Regions from separate parts of the Homo sapiens genome. Here region 2 is linked to region 1. Evidence: fine-mapped expression QTL. Tissue or cell type: whole blood. Region 1 holds a variant in brackets; the other region holds the start of a gene. All regions are shown on one strand. Distances are between the middles of the regions.

Region 1 (8,284 bases):
TTTATATTGGACACATTTATTTTAGGTACAAAATATTGCTTATTTTTAGTAAAGTTTGAGAAAGTAATTTGAGAAATCCTTTGTAGCATGCATCGGAAGGAATCAACCGCTTTGATGTTCAGTCCTCCTTGAAATACGAAGATCTGGCTCCCTGCATAACTTTGAAGAACTGGGTCCAAACACTGCGGTATCATTCAATGTTTTAGGAACTACAGATATTGAATATAGATTGGGGGGATCTCTTACACTCTTAAAAAAGGGCCTTTTTTTTTTTTAATCCACCTGCATGCTAGAGGTGAGAATTTTATCCTTGCCAGCAGATCTCTGCAAGGCAGCCCCAGTATCAGCTTCTAGCTTCACTGTCCCACCTGACCAGCAAAGTCAAGGATGGTGGATAGCCGATCCCAGTCATGACTAGTTAGGATCAGTGGACATTAACCTTTTTATTTCTTGCTGTAAAATAGCAAGTTAACATTCTCTCTGATATTATTTTGTGAATCCTAATGCAGTCATTTTTAGAAACTGCAATACCATTAGAAACTGTTTATTAAATGGTAGAAACTTAAGTACTGTAGCCTGCTGTTTGTGCCTCAGCAGCTCCCCTTACAAAAGCAGGGCACCTTGACCTGTGTTCACATACTCACTGTGTTATAAAGATACCTGGTTTCTTTTGTTTAATCTGACCTTAACTCATCGGCATGAAGCCTAGTCTTAAGTGTATTAAAATAACCAATTAGGGACAATAGTCAGTGACACGGTGATGTCTAAAGATATACTGCTTCCTAGAATTATCAATAAAAATTAAAACATCCAGCTTTTGAAGATATATCCAACTTATATCATCCTGATGTTTTCTTCCTAAATCTAAAAAATTGGAGCTAAATTTAGAGTAGATTATGTTTCACTGACATTTTAAACTATATTTAAAACTTACTCTTCAGTGTCAGTTTTCTCCTTTATAAAATCTGTACATTAGCAACTTCCTTCAGAGGACTACTAAAAATATGAAATAACATTCCCTCGGCCAGGAGGAGGGCTGAGTGTGGCCCCTGCCATCTGGTGAGCAGCAGGGGTCTGGGGAGGTCTGTGCTGCACACAACACAGTACTGTCAACAGTTTGCACAAGGGGTACAAATCAGAACCTGTCTTGCAACACTTTTAGTTGTCACCCTAGTGTTAGGATTTGGTTGTATTGAGAGCTGTTTGTTCACATTTGAAAATGTTTTTGCCATGAAAAGATTGCCTTTGTCATATTTATTGCAAAATCTAAACTGTATGTATTGATATGATTCAATCAAATAATTATGTAAGTTAGTGATTAAAATATTGTAGAGTATACTGAAAAGGATAGCTCTCAGGAAGGTTCATCTGCACTTTTTGCAATATGTTACAGATTTTGTTGCATATGGTTTTATTTGTCTCATTCAATGAACTCTTGAATCAAACCAGTTATGTAGTTTCCTCATTACAGCCCAGTGAGTGCAAAAACAAAACCTTTAGGATCAAGAGATGTTTTGCCAAATAACCGTCAACTTTATGAGATGGTCCTGACATATAACTTTCATCAAGTAAGTGTTTGCCTAGTAAAGTGTACCCTTAGGATGAACTTTTGTGTTTTATTTATGATTCATAGAATCAAAAATGGAAGGACAGTGTATATGGTATATATAAAAAACAGAATCAAGTGATTAACAGTTAATTTGGAATTACTCTTTAGGAAATTATAATTTGTAATTAAATACCATTCAGTTGTAAAGTCACAAAATGTAATTGAGTGGTGACCTAGCCTTAAGCCTTAGTTTATAAAATCACTGATCACTGTCCATTGGTGCCATCTGACCCAGGGGTGATTAGATGGCTCAGAAATACCATCTGCCTTCTGGTGATGGTGCTGGGCCTGATTGCTTTCTGCGAAGAAGGCACTGGAACAGGGAAAGGTCAGAGTAGCTCCCAGGTGGGATGGGTGGCAAAAGTAATGGAGGCCAGTGTAAATGCTGGACCAAAGAATTGTTGTAAGATCAATGAGATTTCAATAAAACTGTTACTGAAACACACATCAGTTTGGTTATAATGTTAGGGAAATGGATTGGTTTCAGTGAATTTTCACATTTCAGTTTTATAAAGTAATTAGAGGTCCTGAAGTATGTATATGTTGCTTTATTAATGAATACACATAGCCAGGTGTGTATTTTTAAAAGTTTGTAAGAGAGCAGTGACTTTTATAAGTGCTAAAATACTGTGTGTTCTATATTTTCAAAATTTTTTACCACAAGTATTTTTAATGTTTTTTAAATGAAAAAGTCTCATGTCAATAACAATATTAAAAATTTGTATCAGAAATTATATGCAAATCATGCCAAGTAATCTTTTTTGTTTTTTAATAGCCCAAGAGTGGGGAAGTAACTCCAAGCTGCCCACTACTTTGTGAACTATTATATGAATCTGAATTTGACAGCCAACTGTGGATTATTTTTGACCAGAACAAAAGACAGATGGGTTCAGGCGATGCCTATCCACATCAGGTATAAAATTGATGGTGATTTTTAGAATTAACGGAAGCTGTTTCCTGAACTAACAAAATCCTGGTTTCTTGTTATGGTAATGTTCATACTTTAAAAAAAACAAAAATTATAGCTTTGTGTTTAGTACTTTTGCAAACTGTGAGAGCCTGTTTGTTGTAGTCGGTGAAGAACAGATGGTGTCAACTATTTCACCATGTAGTTGTGCTGAATTAGAGGAGGACAAGGGTGAACCTTGCCCACACTGGCCAGCATAACTTTTGGTGTGTGGTGTTTCTCCTTCCTATACACTGATTCTACCTATCTGAAGGTAGAATCATCAAAGCATGCATCAAAGAGATGCGAGCCTCTTGAAATGATCCTAAGTCTGAGGGGGCTAAAGAGAGCACTGCAGCAGTGGCCGCATGTCTTCAGTTCATTTGTACTTTTAAATTTACTACCTCGTTGGACAACTCTGTAATGAGCACTTACTACATACCAGGCACTATGCTTTGTGCTGTTTTATTGAAGGGAAAAATCACATAATTTATAGACATTTTATCCCTTAGATATTACTGCAAAGAAATGAGATATTTCCTGTAATATGTATAATTTTATGTTGACAAATGAAAATAATTTATGGAGATTTTTTTCAATTAGTTGTTAAAGGAATGGTATCGATTTTCCTCAAAGCAAGTAGCAGTCACATCTCATTACAGACTGGCCTACTGCAGTGCTATTATTTTGGTTACTTTTTAAATCTCAGAAAAAGTGGCTGACACAGGATACAGCATCTCTTCCTCTTGAACCTGTTAAGTGGATAATAGATTTGTATCCCTTGATCTCTATTGGTTTCCTGTTTTTTTCCTGTCTGTAATAAAGGAGTGACATTTTGGTTGTAATTTGAAGATCAGCTGGGCATGGTGGCACATGCCTGTGATCCCGTCTACTCAGGAAGCTGAGGTGGGAGGATCGCTTGAGCCCTGGAGCTCTAGGCTATGGTGCACTATGATTGCACCAGTTAACAGCCACTGCACTTCAGCCTGGGCAACATAGTGAGTCCCCCTCTCTAAAAGGAAATAAGGATTACCAGTAGTCATAAGTTACACGTGTGTGTGTGTGTGTGTGTGTGTGTGTGTGTGTGTGTATTTGTCCTAGATATTCTATGGTGCCTCAATTTTGCTCATTTTTTTGGTAGTGTTTCTTATATGTCTCTGAGGGACCCATGAACTAGAAAATCACTGCTTTTGTCATTCTCAAGCAGACACTGAGTTTTGCTAAAAGTGTGGGAGTATTCTGTCGTTCTGGAAAGAATGAGGGCTTTGAAGTCAGACCTGACTTCAGCTCTCTTATACTTTACTCTGTGTGATGTTAGGCAAGTCACTTGATGTCCCTGATCCTGTCTGCTCACCAGCGTACTAGGGACTTTATGTGTTATATGAACGTCTGGATAGTTAGTTCCTTGCACTGTACCTCACATATTATGAACAAGTCTGTGAATGGTAACTTTCACTTTATCCTCTTTCAGTGATTTCCGTTGACTTGGTTAAACTTAACTTTTCCC[A/G]AATGTTGTTTTTCTTTTTCAGTATTCTTTGAAACTGGAGAAAGGAGATTATACAATTCGACTACAGATTCGCCATGAGCAAATCAGTGATTTGGAACGCCTTAAAGACCTTCCATTTATTGTTTCTCATAGATTGTCTAATACCTTGAGCTTAGATATTCATGAAAATCATAGTTTTGCACTTCTAGGGAAGAAGAAATCAAGCAATTTGACATTACCACCCAAATATAACCAGCCATTCTTTGTTACTTCCTTACCTGATGATAAGTAAGTGATAACATTGCTTATACTTACTGCCCATCGTATACACTGTAGTCCTTTTAATGTCAGTTTATGACATCTAGGCTAAATTTAGAGGATGTAGTCATTTTTTTTTTGGCTGAAGTATTTCTTCCTTTGATTTTTGAAGTCTTAGCTATGGGAATGAATTCAGTGTGGAATTGTTTTCATGTTTTTCCCCTTACTTGTCTTTGTGAAACTTTCTCTTTTGTTGCTTTTTTTCTCTTTGAATTCTCTTGTTTAGAATACCTAAAGGGGCAGGACCTGGATGCTATCTTGCAGGATCCTTAACATTGTCAAAGACTGAACTAGGAAAGAAAGCTGTAAGTATTAGTTTTTTAAACACTGAAATTACCTATTAAAAAATTTCATTTCTTTAAAGATAAGAATTAATTCCACATTTCAGAATGGATAAAAGAGAAGATATACTCTTGGGGAAAAAAATTTAATCCTTTTTTCCCAGGTTACTAGTGAAAGTCAGTTAATATTTAGTTGTCTTTTAAAATGTATGCTACTTTTGAAATATTTAGGCTTCTTTTTCACAAGCCTACAGTACTCAGGCCCTGAACCTGTCTTACCTCCTACGGCTAATACACTTGAACTTCCTGTGAAACATGTAAATACAAATCAAACTTGGCTTAAATACATGTGATATTTAAGATTAGAACATGTTATAGAAATTTAACCAATAAGATTGGTTGTCCATATAAGATTATGGACATAGGAATAAATCAGATTATCTTGGGGTGCTTTTAAAAAGTAGTCAGAACAATTACCCTAAAACATGTTTCTTCACACTTCTACAGACCTATCTCATTGGAATTTCACATGGTTAAGTAGGAAAATATGAGATGTTTCTTTTGGTATTGCCTTTTAATTTCAAAATGATGCTTTTTTTAGAAATATGTTTCTGGTTGTTGTACTTTAGACATATATGTTACAGTTTTATAAGTACCTACCTGTTTTTGTTTTTTCCTTCTATGTTTTCATTACAAATTTATTATGAGAATGATGTTTATATAGATCTATCACCTTTTGTCATAATAATCATTTTAGCTCAATGCCAGTAAAAGTTGTCATTCTTAACAGTTTTGCATTTCTCTGTACTATTACTTCTTACAGAGCTAAGTAAGCCTGCTACATAAATGCTGTTATCAAAATGAGTAGTTCTCATACATCTTAAGAATTATATTTATTTTTTGCCACTATTGAACCAAAAGCCATTTATTTACTGTCATTGAAGCATAATTGGGGAAACTTGTGCTTAGAAAGTTGCCTACCCTGACATTTCTTGGGTCTCATTTCAGTTTATACTGTTTATACATACGTACTTTAGTATAATTTGAAGTAAATCAATAGTTAATGGTTTGTAATTAATACATGCACTGATTTAAGAAACCCTGGTAGTTTTTTTTGTAGATTTCATTTCACAGGAAGCATAGCTGCTCCAGCTATTGGGCGTCAGCTGTGAATTTTCGTTCAGATGACAGATGACACTTTGAAGAGTCTGCTTACTTGTGAAGAGTATAACAGAAAAGCATTATTAGTAAAAGTGGGCTTTTAGCAATTCAGAAATAGTTACTACTTCCCAGTTACATTGTTTTAGGAGACAATTGTGAAATTAAATTATAAATATGTGGTGTTAACTATGGTAGCTATTTATCAAGGGAGACCTTCCTGGGAGAAAGCAGTAACTTAAAGCTGTTGAGTTCATTATAACTTCCATCACATTGTTTATGTAATCTTTTCTCAGTGGTTTAGCGTTTTCTTGTTTTTTGGTAGTTGGGAAGGTAACTTTCACTTCACTTTGACTTTCACAGTAACTTTGTTGCTTTTTATAAGAATGCATAGGCAATGGGGTTGTTGTGGTACCCTTTAATCAGACTAGACCATCAACTAAATTTACTATTTTAAGAAATGCTTTTATAAGCAATAGATTTTGATCTACTAAATTTTTCAATAAGAAGTTGACATGTACTCTTAGTAATAACATATTTGAGTACTTTTTCTTATGTAAGGAATGAAAGTGGCAATGTTGCTTTCTTTAAAAGCATGCCATCTTAATCACAGACCTGAGCCTTCTAAGTGGTGTAACACAGGTGGAACATAAACTGAAAGACAATTAGACAGAGGTTCTGTCTCCATCCTGTGTAGATTATGCATGTTTTCTTACAGAATGTCGTTCTAACTCCCAGGGGCAGTCTGCAGCAAAACGACAAGGAAAATTTAAAAAGGTACTGATTGTCAGTTCTTAAAAAAGATGTCTTAAAGCCTTATTTGCATATTAAACTTTTTTCTGTCACTATTATAAACCTTTTTTTTAATAAGTCTCCCTTAGTTTCCTTTCTTTGCATTCTAAAGTATAGTGCTCTTAGCTGTACTTAGAAGCATTGTTGACATACTGCTTTTCTAAAGGTTTTTTTTTTTTTCCCCACCATAAATTCCTGGATGACTCATTTTCTCTGTGTATACAAAAATTTTAATGCTATTCATTTCTTGCTACAGATATGATAACAAGTAGCAATATTTGAAATTTTTCATATTTACAATTTTATAGAGAGATGGATGTGATAATTTTTTTTTTTTAGCCATATAAGCTAAAGCACTTATTTTTAAAGTCTAAAAGCACTTTTAAATTGGGTGATTTGATTAATAAAATGTTGCAGCTTTTTAAAGCGAACTTTATTCCCTGCTCTTGTATCCATTCTGGTTCTGAAAGAAGAGAAACAATAAAGATCAATGGATGTAGCAGGAACAGAAATAAGGACTGTTCACTGACAATTAAAGCTTATGCTAAGAACACAGATTTTAAGCCCATCGCTACTAAGTGGTCTGATCAGCCTCTCTGCAGCATATTAAGCAATCTTTGATTTACTGCTGGGGCCAGATTTAACTCAGAAAAGAAAATGTCTGCTATAAATATATTTTAGGGCCAGGCGCAGTGACTCATGCCTGTAATCCCGGCACTTTGGGAGGGCAAGTTGGGCAGATCCCTTGAGCTCAGCGGTTTGAAACCAGCCTGGGCAGCATGGTGAAACCCTGTCTCTACAAAAAAATGCAAAAATTAGCCAGGCGTGGTAGCACACACTTATAGTCCCAGCTACTCTATTGGAGGCTGAGGTGGAAAGATCGCTTGAGCCTGGGAGGTGGAGGCTGCAGTAAGCTGAGATCACACCACTGCACTCCAGTCTGGGTGACAGAGTGAGACCCTGTCTCAAAACAAAACATACATACATATATATATATATATATATATATATATATATATATATATATATATATATATATATAAAAGGGACCACATATTTAATAAGCTTTCTGGTGAAGACGTGCTACGTCATTCAACATTTTCATGATTTCTTTTTAAACAGAAAGAATTACAGTGGGAAAATCAGTAATGTCCTAATGTATACTTGTTAATTAGTAGTGATATGGAACTGGGGAATCACCATTCTATAACAGCTTATCCTTTATTAAAATGTCTTCTGAAATGTCCATATTATTACATAATAGTAAATAATTTGTCCAAACAAAATACAGATACTAGGAATCATCTTTCTGGAGAAAGATCTAAAGATCAGTATTTCTCAACTGGGTGTCTTGACCGTTTGGGGGCCACGTAATGGGATAAAAACAGCATTTTTTTAAAATAGGAAATGTCAGTTCATCAGACTCATAAAATTGTAATTTCATTTTATGTATTAATGTGTATATCTTTGGGACATTGTAAAAATAGTTTGCAAGTTACTGCTTTAGAGAACAAGGAATAGGTATTCTAGGAATCTATTAAAAATAGAAGGCACTTATCACGAAGGCCATAGCCAATTATTTTTCTTCTTATTTTTGTTGACCTTTTGCAAGTTTGGGTAGATTTTGTTTGAATTAGGTTGTATAGTTAGGAAAACACTGAATGAATAGGAAGGCATTTACTTGGTGATTAGTA
Region 2 (7,108 bases), 51 kb before region 1:
ACCCCGGGAGGTGGAGGTTGCAGTGAGCCGAGATCCCGCCATTGCACTCCAGCCTGGGCAAGAAGAGCAAAACTCCATCTCAAAAAAAAAAAAAAAAATTGTGACAAATTTAGACTTCATTTTACAGCTGTACAAAGGGATACATAACTTTTTTAAAAACATGTTTATGGGATATGTAAGCAAAAAAAGAAAAATCTGGCCGGGTGCAGTGGCTGATGCCTGTAATCTGAGCACCTTGGGAGGCCGAGGTGGGTGGATCCCCTAAGGTCAGGAGTTCAAGACCAGCCTGGCCAACATGGCGAAACCCCGTCTCTACTAAAAATACAAAAACTAGCCAGGTGTGGTGGCATGCACCTGTAATCCCAGCTACTCGGGAGGCTGAGGCAGGAGAACTGCTTGAACCCGGGAGGCGGAGGTTACAGTTACCCGAGATTGTGACATTGCACTCCAGCCTGGGCCACAGAGTGAGACTCTGTGTCAAAAAAGAAAAAGAAAAGGAAAGGAAAAGAAAAATCTAAAGAACATTGTTACGGCAGTCTAATAAAAAGTCTGCCACCTAGGTTTCATAATAAACTGTTCATTCCCCATTTATTCATTGGGTGATACTCTGGCAAAGTCATGCACATGGTGTGGTAGAACATACTGGGGAGAGATTGTGAGAAGACAAATCCCGTGTTTTCATCAACCTGTTTTGTAATCCATGACAGTCAGTTAACTTTGTTTCTTCATCTATAAAATGAAGTGATTGGACTATGGTTCACTTGAAACTGGGAGCCATTCTGTTCTATCACTATAAGCTCTATACTGAATGTCTTCTGCGAGTTTGTTATTCTGTTTTCGTCTGTGTTAATTTGAAATTCTTTTCTAGAGGTAATGTAAACAGTTGGGAATAAGAAGAAAAACATTCAACTTTTCTTTTTCCTCTGCACTAAAGAGAACATGCTTGTGTAAGACTTATGGACTGAATAAATGATCAAGGAATCAGCTGAAACCATTGCACAGCCATAAGAATAATTTTTGAGACTTAATGGAGGATCTCTGAAATTCTGTGGGTTGGAAACCGCATGCATAAGGCTTTCCTTTATACCAGGTATTCTTAACTTGGTGTCCATAGACAGAATCCAAGGGGTTCAAAAACTTCCGTAGAAAAAAGATACAAACCTCTTAATTTTTTTCACATCAAGTATGAATGTAGGCAAAAACCAGGGTAGTTATGCTGTTATGTCACCAATAAAAATCAGTTCATCGTAGTGCAGTTTTCACCGCTATCTCCAAATAATTATATTCTTCACTATTTTGAAGTTATGGTAGTTTATTAGCCTTGGCCCTAGCTCCTGTTATTTAATGCAAAAGAAGTACACCTGTAACTATACACACACACGTAAAGCTCCTGCTATATAACAAAATTGCCTTTAGTATTTTTGATAACTGCATTTAAACATAATTTATTTCCTGGGTAATCCTATCTATTTCATTGTATGCATTTTAAAACACTGCTTGAGAAATAGGCCTCACCAGATTGCCAAAGGGGTCTTCGGCACAATAAAAGGCTAAGATTACCCTGGCATGAGCATAGACATAAAGATCATTAGAGGACCACTATGCAGCTTGCAGCAACTGACGGCAGGCACTGTGAATCTGGAAAACTGAAAATTATGGCTCTATAATTGAGTGGACAGCCGTAAGGAGCAATCAGAAACTTCAGTGTAAGAGGAAAAAAAAAGATGTTTTTCAGAAATCCCGGAAGCTAAGGATCAGCAGAGGATAGGAGGGGCCCATTTCAGTCTCGTGCTTTGTTACTGGCTACAAAGGCGACGGAATGACCAACAACCCACTTCCTGTTGACTGAAACTATTGCCTGTCTCCACCCTATTGCTCCCCCTCACCACCTCACCCCCATCAAAGGGGCATAACAACACAGGGGAACCCAAAGTCTACACCCCTTAACCTACGACCTTCCAAAATCATGTCCGGAGCTTTCGCCGACACCGCAGACTCCTTAGCGGCTAAGCGTGAGTGCGCCGGCTCCCTTGCCTCGGGTCAGCAGCACCCCGGGGCTGGGGCTCCTGCAGCAGCCGCACCAAAAAGTTTCATCCACAACCTTAAGTTTGGAAACTATCGTTTGCCAAGCGAAGGGTTCCCATTATTCCTGGCTGGCGGTCCATCTCCTTGCCCGTCTCTCGGGGAGTGATTCGGTCCGGGACACCAGGACTCTGCTTGGAGGCCTGCTGTTGCCTAAAAACCCCAAGCGCGGGCCTCTTCAAGGCCCCAGGTTCGAGATCCGAACCCTCCAGTAATGTCCTCAGACTCCTCCCCCTTCACTGCAGCCCGGGCAATACTCGGGCCTAGCTCCTGAGAGCGGCGCCGTTGGCTTACGTAGCAGCACGTGATTGGCCACCGCTCCCTGGCAGGCCGGGATTGGTGGAAGACGGGCCGACCCCGCCCCTCGCCCCCGCCTCCGGCCCGAGGCCGCACGGGTGTCCTCGCGCTGCTAGTCCGCGCGCAGCCTGGCAGTTTGCCGCTTCCTCGTCCTCCATCCTGCGTCCATGGCCACCGCTGCGACTGAGGAGCCCTTCCCTTTTCACGGTCTCCTGCCGAAGAAGGAGACCGGAGCCGCCTCCTTCCTCTGCCGCTACCCGGAGTATGATGGGCGGGGGGTGCTCATCGCAGTCCTGGACACGGGGGTCGACCCGGGGGCTCCGGGCATGCAGGTGAGGCGGCCCCCGAGGGCCCGGGCGCGGGGGCGCGGGCGGCCGGGGACGCGGGTGGGGACACAGTCTCGGAGCCCGGCAGGCCAAAGCCCCGCTCTGCGGCCGAGTCCGGGCCGGGGTGGGCAGCACCGGGGTGGGCAGAGGTCAGAGCCAGGCGCGGGAGGGACGGGCGCCCGCCAAGGGGACTCAACGGCGCACAGTGCCAGGGTCGCTGGGCGGGCGAGGGCCCGGACCCCAGGTTGGGCCGTGGTCCCCCCAGCTCAACAAAAGCAGCGTGCCCGGCGCGGCTGCCTGGGGAAGCCTGGGTCCCCCTTTGGCCCCAGGGACTCCCCTTCCTTCTCGCTTCGGCGCTGCCAGGCCGGACCCCCCAGGCTCCTTCCCTCCACGCCGCCTTCCTCTGCCTACCCCTCGTGCCTCGGACACCGGTCCCAGCCTGACGTTTTTAAAGAGAATTTTACAGCTTTTATCATTGGGGTGGGGTGGAGACACCAGATAGGCAACTGACATGTGAGAACTTAATGTTTAGGGATCGGGAGATTTGGTTTGGGGAAGAATAGTTTGTCTTTAAGCACGAAAGCTGGGTTTCCAGAAGATAACCCAGTCCTCTTCCGGAATTGTTTCCTGTGGTAGTTTTGTGTATTCTATTTTTAAACGGTCTTCTGCAGCGTGTTTGCTTAGGGTCATTGAATCTTGTGGCTTAGTCTTCGTTTACATAAGGAGAATTCAGTTAGGTTTGGTTTTGGCGAGCTTCTCAGACCTTATGAAAATATGCGACTTTTTTTTTTTTAAACCTGAAAACATACGACGGTTTTTAAAAATTACTTAGTTTTTTGCCTTAGGCAACTTTAAAATCTGTAGATTCAAGGTATCATACCAGAAGGTAGTTTTTTTGAAAGTATGTTGTCTCTCGTTAAAAGCATTCTGTTTAAAGTCTTTAAAGTTTAACTTTTGTACTTTTAACCCTTTACTGAAATCCAGTAATAAAATTTCACCGTTATTCAAGATCCATCTCCCAGCATCCCTGACTAATCCTACTGTATGCTGATCTCTCGTTGATCAGCCCCTGGCTATCTTATCCTCCTTTCTACACTAAACACTCATCCTCCTCCCCACAATGTCCCTTCCCTTCTGGATCCTTTATCGTGCTTTCTGATTATTGAGGTAGCATTTTGGAAGTAACGAGGGGGAGTCTGGCCGAATCTGCTTAGAAACCCCTGGGAATCTTGATTCCTGGTGTGTGTTCTTCAGCACCACTCTGGAGTACAGCACATCTTTTGTGAATCAGAAGAGGATCAGGTACTGAATTCCCTCCCGGTAACTGGAGTTATATAGTTGTCGTTGTATTAATAACTTAAAGACTTAGAACAATGACAGCTATCAACTCATTTGGGGCTTTATTACAAAGTAATAATGCTTTTCATTCAGCTGTGGAGTGTGTTTACTTTTTATAGGATGAGTGGGAGGAAAACAGCTGGGATAAGTGGTTCACCGGTTCTTTTGTCAGGATAATAAGAGGGTCAGAAAAGTTTGGAGAAGTGCTGCTTGGTAGAATTTGTTGGTAGAATTTCCAGATCTGTTTCTCACATTATTCTGTTACTCTCTCTAAAGTAACAATAATTTTCACCCCACAGCCTTGTTGTGAAAATTGATTATAAGAGGACTGGCTAATTACATGTGACTTTTTTAAATGCTCAAGAAAAATATTAAACTATTTTGGCAATGATATTTATTCTTTTTTGTATATATAATTTCAACTTTTATTTTAGATTCAGAAGGTAGAAGTACAGGTTTGTTACATGGGGGTATTGCCTGATGTTAAGGTTTGGGGTGTGATTGATCCTGTCACCCAGGTAGTGAGCGTGGTACCCAGTAGGTAGTGTTTCAGTCTTATTTCCACCCCTTCCCTTTGGGATCCCCAGTATCTGTTGTTCCCGTCTTTGTGTCCATGTGTACTCAATATTTAGCTCCCACCATAAGTGAATAGAAGTTTATGCTGGATCTTTCATCACCAACTATTTGGAGGGTAAATATATGTTAGATATTTGCATGTAATAAATATTCAGATGATAAAATATTGAAATAAAATGAAAGCATAAGTCTTCTCTTTTAACAACCTTGACTCAGATATTGGCCTAAACATAGCCAGTTAAAAGAAATTGGGTACGGTGGCTTGCAAACGTGAGGATTTTTTTTTCCTGTACCTTTAACAGATTTATTTTGTAGATATATGTGTACATCATTAAGATTAGAGGATGGATAGAAAGAAAAAGGAAGGAAAGAATGAAATAGGAGGAAGATGAGGCTGAACTGGCAGTTTGGAAAGCCGGGTGGGGTCTGAATAAAGGACTAGAGGCACAAGTGAAAACGTGGAAGAACACAGTGGGTTGTCTCAGTCTTTGGTGACTTCCTTGGGCCCAATTCTTTTGTGACAGGTCTGTGGGCATGATCAAGTGGAGGATGGGTGGCATGAGAAGAGTAGTAGTTACGTAAGTGATTTCATATTTCCTCAGCAGATATTCAGGCACCTACCAGGTGCCTAAGTTTGTGTTAAATGATATAGTCTTGCAAACTGTCACTCTTGCAGAGATTGACAAGGATTATTGGGGGGATGGGGCAGGGATTGGGGCAGCATTGGCCAGTAAGAGCTGGACTGGTCAGGTTTCACAGACCAGATGGAACTTGGACTAGACCAGAATATATGTATGCAATAGCCAGGAGGTCTCCCTTCCACCAGTCTTGTTTCTCTTTGATCCATCCTTCACATTTCTAGAGTTAGATTCCTTAAAAAAAAAAAAAAACCTTGTATTATACCCTCATTTAAAACAAAGCCATTTTGGAATCTCAACTGCTTTTGTGTAAAAATTAAAAAAAAAAATTGAATGGTATATATGAGGCCATTTGCCATCCAACTCTGGCCTCCTTATGTAGCCTCAGTTCTCATCATTTCTTATGTCCATAGCCCCTTCATCCCCACCTTTCATCCTTTGCCTCCCCTTGAACATTTCATTCTTACACTCACCTAGATGTTTCAGGTCTTTTTGCCAATACATGCCTTTACATGTGGCGTTTCATCTTCCGTCAGGCTTCTACCATCCGTCATCTGTAAACTCCTGCTTCATCCTTTAAGATCCAGTCGGGTCTTGACACCATTATGTTTTGGAAAATCAACTGATTTAATTCTGCGCGCCCCCTCCCCCCACCACCTCGTATTTATGTGTGTTTGCCATTGTGTTAGGGCCTGCAGCTTCAGAGGTGAGTAAGGCCCAATCCCTCCTAAGAGTTATTTAGGCTTTTTGTCTCTTTGCTGTTATAGCAATTTGCTTAGATCCCCTTAATAGCACCTGAAATATGTATTTTAGTGTTTCTGTTTAGATAACTTTTTCCTGGTTAACTTAAAAATCTTTGAAAGCATGTATCAAAATTGTATGACATGTGCTTGTAATGTTAAATGTTTTTGTTGAATGGAAAAAATATATATGGGCATAATGAAGGAATATAATTTCCTCATAGAGGGAAAAAAAAGGTTTGAGGAGGTTACGAGTAGTTTCATAAAACTCTATTTTTACATTCACTAAAATTTTATTACCTCTCTTTCAGTTAGCTTTCCCTCATTCCCCCCAAGTTGGGTTTTGTGTTTTTACATGTTTTTGTATGCTTTCATAGATAGTGTCCTAACCTCTTTTTTTTTTTTCCCTCAAAGACAGGGTCTCACTCTGTCACCCAGGCTGGAGTACAGTGGCACAGTGGCAGGATCACCACTCATTTCAGCCTCAAACTCCTGGGTTTAAGCAAGCCTCCTGCCTCAGCCACTGCAGTAGCTGGGACCATAAGCATGTGCCACCATACCCAGCTAATTTTTTAATTTTTTTGTAGAGACAGGGTCTCACTGTGTTACCCAGACTGGCCTGACCTCTATTATTTGTTGTCCTGTTTTGTCATCATCTCTCTACTTACTTTTTCTTTCCAACCAATAGTAACCTTTACAAAAGCAAAGATTGTCTTATTTATATTAATCATTATATTCTTAGAATAAAAGTCACTGGTTAATATTTATTAAATCTTTATTTGCTTAAAAGAATATTTTCAGTACCTTTCCTGAAATTTTAAGTCAACTCATTAACTTTGTGTTGTTTATGATAGATTGCAAACTTCCCGCCATTTGTTCTGGTCCTCTCTGCAAATGTCCTACCTTTTGTTCTGGTCCTCTCTGCAAATGTTTGGCAAATCTTCCAACCTTCACTAACTCCTCTACCTTACTGGTTACATTGAAGACATACACTAACTTAGATTCTTGACATTTTGGGAAAAGCTTTGGGCAATTTCTGTTTCATCCAGCCAACATAGCCCAGTAAGCATTTCCCAGTCTCCCACCCCAGGACCCAGGATTTAATACCGAA

The links. PIP is the estimated chance that this variant, and not a neighbour inherited with it, causes the effect.
Region 2: TPP2 starts here. The variant in region 1 is fine-mapped to the expression of TPP2 in whole blood (TOPMed, PIP above 0.99).

Annotation. Positions count from the first base shown.
Region 1 is chr13:102,644,823-102,653,106 of GRCh38, forward strand. TPP2 (tripeptidyl peptidase 2) reads left to right here. Exons shown (of 30, transcript NM_001330588.2): 19 at 87-187; 20 at 1,472-1,568; 21 at 2,385-2,522; 22 at 4,085-4,329; 23 at 4,586-4,664; 24 at 6,537-6,575. Among named protein-coding and RNA genes, the nearest start is that of METTL21C, 46 kb to the right of the region's middle. The variant A/G (reference allele first, on the strand shown) is at 4,063.
Region 2 is chr13:102,594,493-102,601,600 of GRCh38, forward strand. TPP2 (tripeptidyl peptidase 2) reads left to right here and starts at 2,494. Exons shown (of 30, transcript NM_001330588.2): 1 at 2,494-2,711. The coding sequence starts at 2,547. LOC107984588 (a long non-coding RNA gene) reads right to left here and starts at 2,450. Exons shown (of 2, transcript XR_001749984.3): 1 at 1,956-2,450. RefSeq lists enhancers at 1,928-2,087, 2,138-2,197 and silencers at 2,268-2,557, 2,718-3,007.